2 linked regions of the Homo sapiens genome follow. The protein of the gene in region 1 purifies or fractionates together with the protein of each later gene. This does not show direct contact. Each region holds a gene or a part of one and is shown on either strand. Other genes may lie near its edges. The genes, in order: AGR3 and C11orf54.

Region 1 (3,825 bases):
CAGGAGGCTGAGGCAGGTGAATCACTGGAACCTGGGAGGCAGAGGTTGCAGCGAGCTGAGATCGCGCCACTGTACTCCAGCCTGGTGACAGAGCAAGACTCCATCTCAAAAAAACAACAAGCAAACAAAAACCACACACACACACCTAGGAATATATTAACCAAGGAGGTGAAAGATCCCTACAAGAAAAACTATAAAACATTGATGAAAGAAATTGAAGAGAACACCAAAAAATGGAAAGACATCCCATGCCATGGATTGGAAGAATGAATTTTGCTAAAATGACCATACCACCAAAGGCAATCTACAGATTCAATGCAATCTCTATCAAAATACCAATGATATTTTTCACAGAAACAGAAAGAAAAAAATCTTCAAATTTGTATAGAACCACAACAGACTCCAAATAGTTCAAAGCAATACTGAGTGAAAAGAACAAAACTGCAGGCATCATACTACTTGACTTCAAAATATACTGCAAAGCTATAGTAAACAAAACAGCATGGTATTTGTATAAAAACAGAAACCTAGACCAATGGAATAGAATAGAGAACCCAGAAATAAATCCACGTATTTAAAGTCAGCTGATTTTTAACAAAGGTGGCAAGAACATGCATTGGGGAAAGGACACCCTCTTCAATAAATGGTGCTGGAAAACCTGGATATCCATATGTAGAAGAATGAAACTAGACTCCTAACTCTTACCATATGCAGAAATCAATTCAAAATGGACTAAAGACTTGAATGTAAGACCCCAAACTATAACACTCCTAGAAGAAAATATAAGGGAAGCCCTTCGGACATTGTTCCCTGCAAAAAAATGTATGGGTAAGATTTCAAAAGCACAGGCAACAAAAACAAAAATAGACAAATGGGACTATGTCACCTGAGAAGCATCTGAACAGCAAAGGAAACAAAAGCATAAGGGGACAAACTGTAGAATAGGAGAAATTATTTGCAAACTATTCATTCGACATGGGCCTATATCTAGAATATACAAGGAACTCAAACAACTCAACAACAAAAAACCCCAAATGATTTGATTTTAAAATGGGCAAAAGATCTGAATAGACATTTCTCAAAAGAAGACACACAAATGGCCAAGGATATGAAGAAATTCTCAACATCTCTAATCATCGGGGAAAGGCAGATCAAAACCACAATGAGATATTATCCCACCACAGTTAGAACTGATATTATCAAAAAGACAAAAAATAACAAATGCTGGTGAGGATGCAGAGAAGAGGGAATTCTTATACACTGTTGGTAGGAATGTAAATTAGTACAGCCATTATGCAAACATATAGAGGATTCTCAGAAAACTAAAAATATAACTACCATATGATCCAGCTTTCCTACTACTGAGTATTTATTTAAAAAATCAGTATATCAAAGAGATATTTGCATCTCCATATTTATGGAATCACTATTCACAATAGCCAAGATATAGAATCAACCTAAATGTCCATCAATGGATGGATGGATAAAGAGAACATGTTATATATTCACAGTGGACTACTACCCAGACATAAAAATAATGAAATGCTCTCATTCACAGCAGCATGAATGAGCCTGGAGGATGTGTTAAGTGAAATAAGTCAGATATAGAAAGATAAATACCACAAATTCTGACTCATATAGAGTAGCTTAAAAAAAAGTTGTACTAATAGAAGTAGAGAGTAGAACTCTGGTTATTAGAAGCTGGGGAGGGTTCAGAGCTGGAAGGATAAGGAGAGGTTGATTAATAGATGCAAAAATATAGCTAGATAGGAGGAATAAGTTTGAGTAGTATTCTACAGCACTATAGGGTACATACAGTTAACAATAGTTTATTGTATATATTTAAAAAGCTAGTAGAGAGGATTTTGAGTGTTCCCACCAGAAAGAAATGATATGTTTCAGGTGATGCATATGCTAATTACACTGATTTGATCACTACACATTGTGTACATGTATCAGCATATCACTCTATATTCCATAAATATGTACAATTATTATGAGTCTACTACAAATAAAAGGAAAAAAATGAGCTGAGAAGCATGTTACCTTTTTTGAGCATAAAAGAGACCTTCTTCATAAGTTTGTACCCAAGTGATGTCATCTCCCCATCCTGAAATAGAAGAGAGAAATCAATGCAGTAACCCAGAACTAGAGAAGAGCTCGGAAATGGGTATCTAATAATCAGATATCTACCTACAGATATTTAACTAAGCCATCAAGCTGTTGGCTGACATATGGTGCAGAGGACACACAATTTTCACAAGATATGGAGGTGATTTCCCTTTAGATTGCAGTACTGAGGTTTTGCTACTGCATTTCAAACCTCGAGGCCCATGGCCTTGAACCCAGTAAGTACTCAATACATGTTGTTATGATTAGAGCTGATTGAAAGGACATCTTTGGATAATGTAAAAGCTGTGGCTTTAGGAACGCTTGGAAAGTAACAGTTCATCTTTGCATACTTTGTAATATTATTAGGAATCCTTTCGGCTGTACTCTACAATGCCCTCCTATTTTGGGTCCCAAGAGATGTTGACCTCTTCTAAGTCAGTATACGTTGTGAAATAAGGGAATTCCAAGTTTTGCTTTGAATTCTGACATGGAAAAAATTCTTGTGTGGGAATTTCATGGCCAAGAGACATAATAAAACGCATGTGTTTTGGAAACACCCAAAAGAATGGAGAGAAAAAACAGAAAGCAATGAATATAGAGAGAACCCATTAGCCTTAAAGAAATGGTATGAATAGTTGGGAATGTGTATAAGCAATTAAAGATAAAATCATCAAGTAGAAGAATGTGCAGAACCTCCAAAAACATTACTGAGTATTTTCAGGAAGTGTCTCAGTCTACGAATGAGAGAGATTGAATTAATGTGAAAATTAGCAATATTTGGAAGTCAGTTTGGGCCCAGGTTTTCTTGTACATTTCAAATGTTGTCAGACCACAGTTTCTGGCTTTAATATCATGGTAAATATGATAGTAATTTGATAAATATGATTCCATGATTTTTGCTTGTTTTTCATGTTTGTTTTCTGGCGACAGCTTTATTGAAATAAAATTCATACGCCAATACAACTCACCTATTGAAAACGTATACTTTTGGCCAGGCATGGTGGCTCATGACTGTAATCCTAGCACTTTGTGAGACCAAGGTGGGTGGATCATTTGAGGTCAGGAGTTCAAGACTAGCCTGGTCAATACAGTGTAATCTGTCTCTACTAAAAATGCAAAAATTAGCTGGGTGTGGTGGCATGTGCCTGTAGTCCCAGCTACTCGGGAGGCTGAGGCAGGAGAATCGCTTGAACCTGGGGGTGGATGTTGCAGTGAGCCAAGATTGCGCCACTGCTCTCCAGCCTGGGTAACAGAGCGAGACTCCATCTCAAAAAAAAAAAAAAAAAGAAAAAAAGAAAATGTGTGCTTTTTTCAGTATATCCACGAAGTTGTGCAACCATCATCACATCAATTTTAGAACATTTTCATCTCCTCAAAAAGAAACCCTATACCATTTAGCTATCACCTGCTCCCCATTTTCTTCAAATGCCACAGCCCTAAGAAACCCCTAATCTACTTTCTGTCTCTATAGATTTGCTTATGCTGGACATTTCATATAAATGGAATCATACAATATGTAGGCTTTTGTGACTAGATTTTTTCACTCAGCATAACCTTTTTAAGGTTCATCCTTATAGTGCCATGTATTATTATTTAATTCATTTTTTATGGTCAAATATTATTCCATTGTATGAATATACCATATTTTATTTATCTGTTCATCAGTTAATGATATTTGGGTTGTTTCCACTTTTTGTCTTTTATGAATAATGA
Region 2 (3,825 bases), on another chromosome or scaffold:
GTGCAGTGGGATGATCACAGTGGGCCTGGAAAAAGCACCACAAGTTTCCACTCTGGTGTGTGGGATTGGCAGCTGGGCCCCCAGCCTTCAGGCCTTCCCTGGCCCGAAAGTGGGGCCTCACCGGAAACCCGCCCCCTTCTGCCCCGGAACCTGTCTGCCTCCTGCTGCCGATCACGGAATCCAGGCTGTAGGTGCCAAGGGGTGCCTGAAGGCCAGTGGGGAGCTGCTCTCAGCCGCCGCTCAGCTTCCCTTCTACGCTCGTGTCAGCGCCCCAAATCCAGAAGGGGCCGGGACGGCAGGGGGCTGGTGTGTCAGCAGTGCCCTGAGCGTGTGCACACCTGGCTGGGCTGCGACAGCGACCGGGCTCTGCCTGACTTTGCTCCTGGATCGGAGCAGGCGCCGACAGCAGGGAGAAGCCAGGCAGTGGGAGCAGGCATTTCCAAGCCTGTAAGAGCAGTGGGGGCCTTCCCAGACCCCCAAGAATGCAGGAATGCCTGGGTCCGCAGCCACGGTTTGGGCAGCTGCAGCTGTGTGGAGAAGGCAGGGCTCCTGCCTGCTCCGTGGAGCGGGAGACCCAGGTCTGCAGCCGCGGGTTTGAGCTGCTGCAGCTGCGCCTGGGCAGTTGGGGCTCTCGCCTGTTCCCACTGGGAGAGCACAGGGATGCCAGGGACTACAGCCATGGCTTGGGCGATTGCAGCGGCACCAACGGAGCTCCAGCGCCAACTCGGAAGGGGCAGGACTCCCACCTGTCTTCAGCTCCCACCCGCTCCATAGAGTGTGTAGCCTCAGCCGTGCCTCCCTGCTGCAGCCGCTCCAGAGAGCCTGCCGCTGCCATCATCACTATGTTGACCAGGCTGGTTTTGAATTCCTGGCCTCCAGCGGTCCTCCCACCTGGGCCTCCCAAAGTGCTGGGATTACAGGCATGAGTCACTCTGCAGGCCTTGAATTTATCTTGATCTTAAAAACAAACATATCCAAAATAAAGTTCTAATATACTAACATGGACAAAGATATTATCTTACAATCTGATTTATAAAATTATCATTTAAATTTTAAAGTAATACAATCATAATAAAAAGGATTTGTTTAAAGTGTCTTCAAATGTAGAATTCCCAACACATACTTTACAATCCTAAGATCTGGCCCGGTGCAGCGTCTCACGTCTGTAATCTCAGCACTTTGGGAGGCCGAGACAGGTGGATCAGCTGAGGTCAGGAGTTCGACACCAGTCTGGCCAATGTGGCAAAACCTTGTCTCTACTAAAACTACAAAATGAGCCGGTTGTGATGCTGCATGCCTATAATCCCAGCTACTCAGTAGGCTGAGGCAGGAGAACCCCTTGAATCCGGGAGATGGAGGTTGCAGTGAGCCAAGATTGTGCCACTACACTCCAGCATGGGCAACAGAGCAAGGATCCGTTTAAAAAAAAAAAAAAATCCTAAGATCTTAAGTAAGTGCACACACACAAACTCCTTCATGCATGTATGCACACATGGGCTCTTACCATAATGTGAGACTTCACTTTTCCCTTCTGAATTATGAAAGTACCTCCCATTCCTATAGGCTTATTTCCATAATGTTTTTCCAGGGTCTCTCTCATACAAGTCACAAAGTTAAGTGGTCCAGTTCTTCTTTTGGCTTTCACCTCAATTACCTATAGAGGACATAAAGATGCATACCATTGACTATGCTGCAAAATAACTACTGAAATAAAACATTATATAATTTAATTCTATCAAGCAAATATTCTGTTCTTTGCTTAGAGCCCCCAGATCTGAGTTGAGATGTTGCAATCCCGTGAATTTTGATCAGTCATATATATATGTATGCACACACACACACACATACTTATCAGTTACATGTAATTTACTAGTAAGTCTTAAGCATGCTTTCTTGAACTGAGAAACTGAGAAAGACAAGTTTCTCAGTGCAGAGAGTCTAGAGACTCTTAACATACGTGTCGAGGCAGTCAAAGATTGAGAATTACCTTTGGTAATTCTTTGGTTAAAGGAATTAACCTTTGGTAAGTGGGGATGAGGAGAAAATGATTACATTTTCTCACTTCCCTTAAAATTCTGTATTATCTCCACAACTTGGACGTTAAGTATTTTCACTTCTCAATCTCTTATCTCAAAGTAGCTGAAGAGGCTATCTCTACTTCCAAAACTGGAGAGTCTTCACAAAAGCTAACACTGAAATCATATTTTTGTGTACTAATAGGAAGTAAATATCAAGTAAGGCATTAGTTTTCCTTACTTTGTTCTTGCTGTAAGTTTTTGCTACCACCATTTCTATCTAGAGCAATGTGTGATTCATCAGAAAGAAGCAAATAACCTATTTACTACCTGTAAGTAGGCATTATTTATTTTAGCTGTATGGTTCATGTAGATGACAAACTCACTCCCCAAATTAATATTCTATTACCTTTTAGTTCTCAGAAAAAGGTCTTGCTTACTAAGTAGTCTTTTTTTTTTTTTTTTAAGACAGGTCTTGCTGTCACCTAGGTAGGAGTGCAGTGGTGTGATCATAGCTCGTTGCGGCCTCAAACACCTGGGCACAAGGGATCCTCCTGCATCAGCCTCCTGAGTAGCTAGGACTATAGGCATGTACCACCACACCTGGCTAATTAAAAAAAAAAATTTTTTTTTTTTTTTTTTGACAGGGTCTTGCCATGTTGCCCAGGCTGGTCTGAAACTGCCAGCCTTAAGTGATCCTCCAGCTTTGGCCTCTCAAAGGACTGGAATTATAGGCATAAGCCATTGTGCCAGCCATACTATTCTTTTTTTTTTTTTTTTTTTTTTTGGAGACAGAGTCTTGCTTTGTTGCCCAGGCTGGAGTGCAATGGTGCAATCTTGGCTCACTGCAACCTCTGTCTCCCAGGTTCAAGCAATTCTCCTGCCTCAGCCTCCCAAGTAGCTGGGACTACAGGCATGTGCCACCTTCCCTGTCTAATTTTTGTATTTTTAGTAGAGACGAGGTTTCGCTATGTTGGCCAGACTGGTCTCAAATGCTTGACCTCAGGTGATCTACCCACCTTGGCCTCCCAAAATGCTTGGGAATACAGGCGTGAGCCACCGCGTCTGGCCTCCAGCCATATTATTCTTAACCTTAAAGATGACTTTTGCTCTGCCTGTCATACTCTCTGAACCTTTCATTACTGGGTTATTTAAAGAGCTTTGACTTAGGAAGCTCTAATTTTCTTTTTTTTTTTTTTTTTGAGACAGAGTCTCACTCAGTGGCCCAGACTGGAGGGTAGTAGCATGATCTTGGCTCACTGCAACCTCTGCCTTCCGAGTCTGAGCGATTCTCTCACCTCAGCCCCCCCGAGTAGCTGGGATTACAGGCACACACCACCACACCCTGCTAATTTTTGTATTTTTTGGTACAGATGGGGTTTCACCATGTTGACCAGGCTGGTCTTGAACTCCTGACCTCAAGTTGACCTCAAGTTATCCACCCAGCTTGGCCTCCCAAAGTGGGAAACTAATTTTCTTAGCAAAACCATATTTATGGCAGTAAAAGTTCACATTTTTAGCTTTCTGAGAACATTTAGGGAATATTGTATTTTTATGGACACAATCACCTTGCCAGGTTGGCCTTCACTGGCAAAAAGATTAGCCAGTAATGCACACTGAAAATCATGACATTTCTCACTGTATTTCTCCAGTAGGCACCCTCCATCTGCAGGGTTCACATGGGCAAAGTAACTTCCATTTACAGGAGGCTTGTGTTCACTTTCTGTCTGAATAACTGGCATAAACTGAAAAGAAAGTGAGGCAATTAGTCAATCTTTGTATCTCTGCAAAGAGAATATCTTGAATAATG

Evidence for each region.
Region 2: the proteins of AGR3 (region 1) and C11orf54 fractionate together in Homo sapiens (co-fractionation; one large-scale study listed by BioGRID). This does not show direct contact.

The regions. Positions count from the first base shown.
Region 1 is NC_000007.14:16,871,734-16,875,558, forward strand, and holds part of AGR3 (anterior gradient protein 3 precursor), read right to left. Parts: intron 2,111-3,825; coding exon 2,047-2,110; intron 1-2,046. UniProt on the Homo sapiens protein: Required for calcium-mediated regulation of ciliary beat frequency and mucociliary clearance in the airway. Might be involved in the regulation of intracellular calcium in tracheal epithelial cells.
Region 2 is NC_000011.10:93,755,145-93,758,969, reverse strand, and holds part of C11orf54 (ester hydrolase C11orf54), read right to left. Parts: intron 3,761-3,825; coding exon 3,584-3,760; intron 1,655-3,583; coding exon 1,505-1,654; intron 1-1,504. UniProt on the Homo sapiens protein: Exhibits ester hydrolase activity on the substrate p-nitrophenyl acetate, in vitro. Regulates DNA damage and repair by regulating HIF1A degradation via chaperone-mediated autophagy (CMA).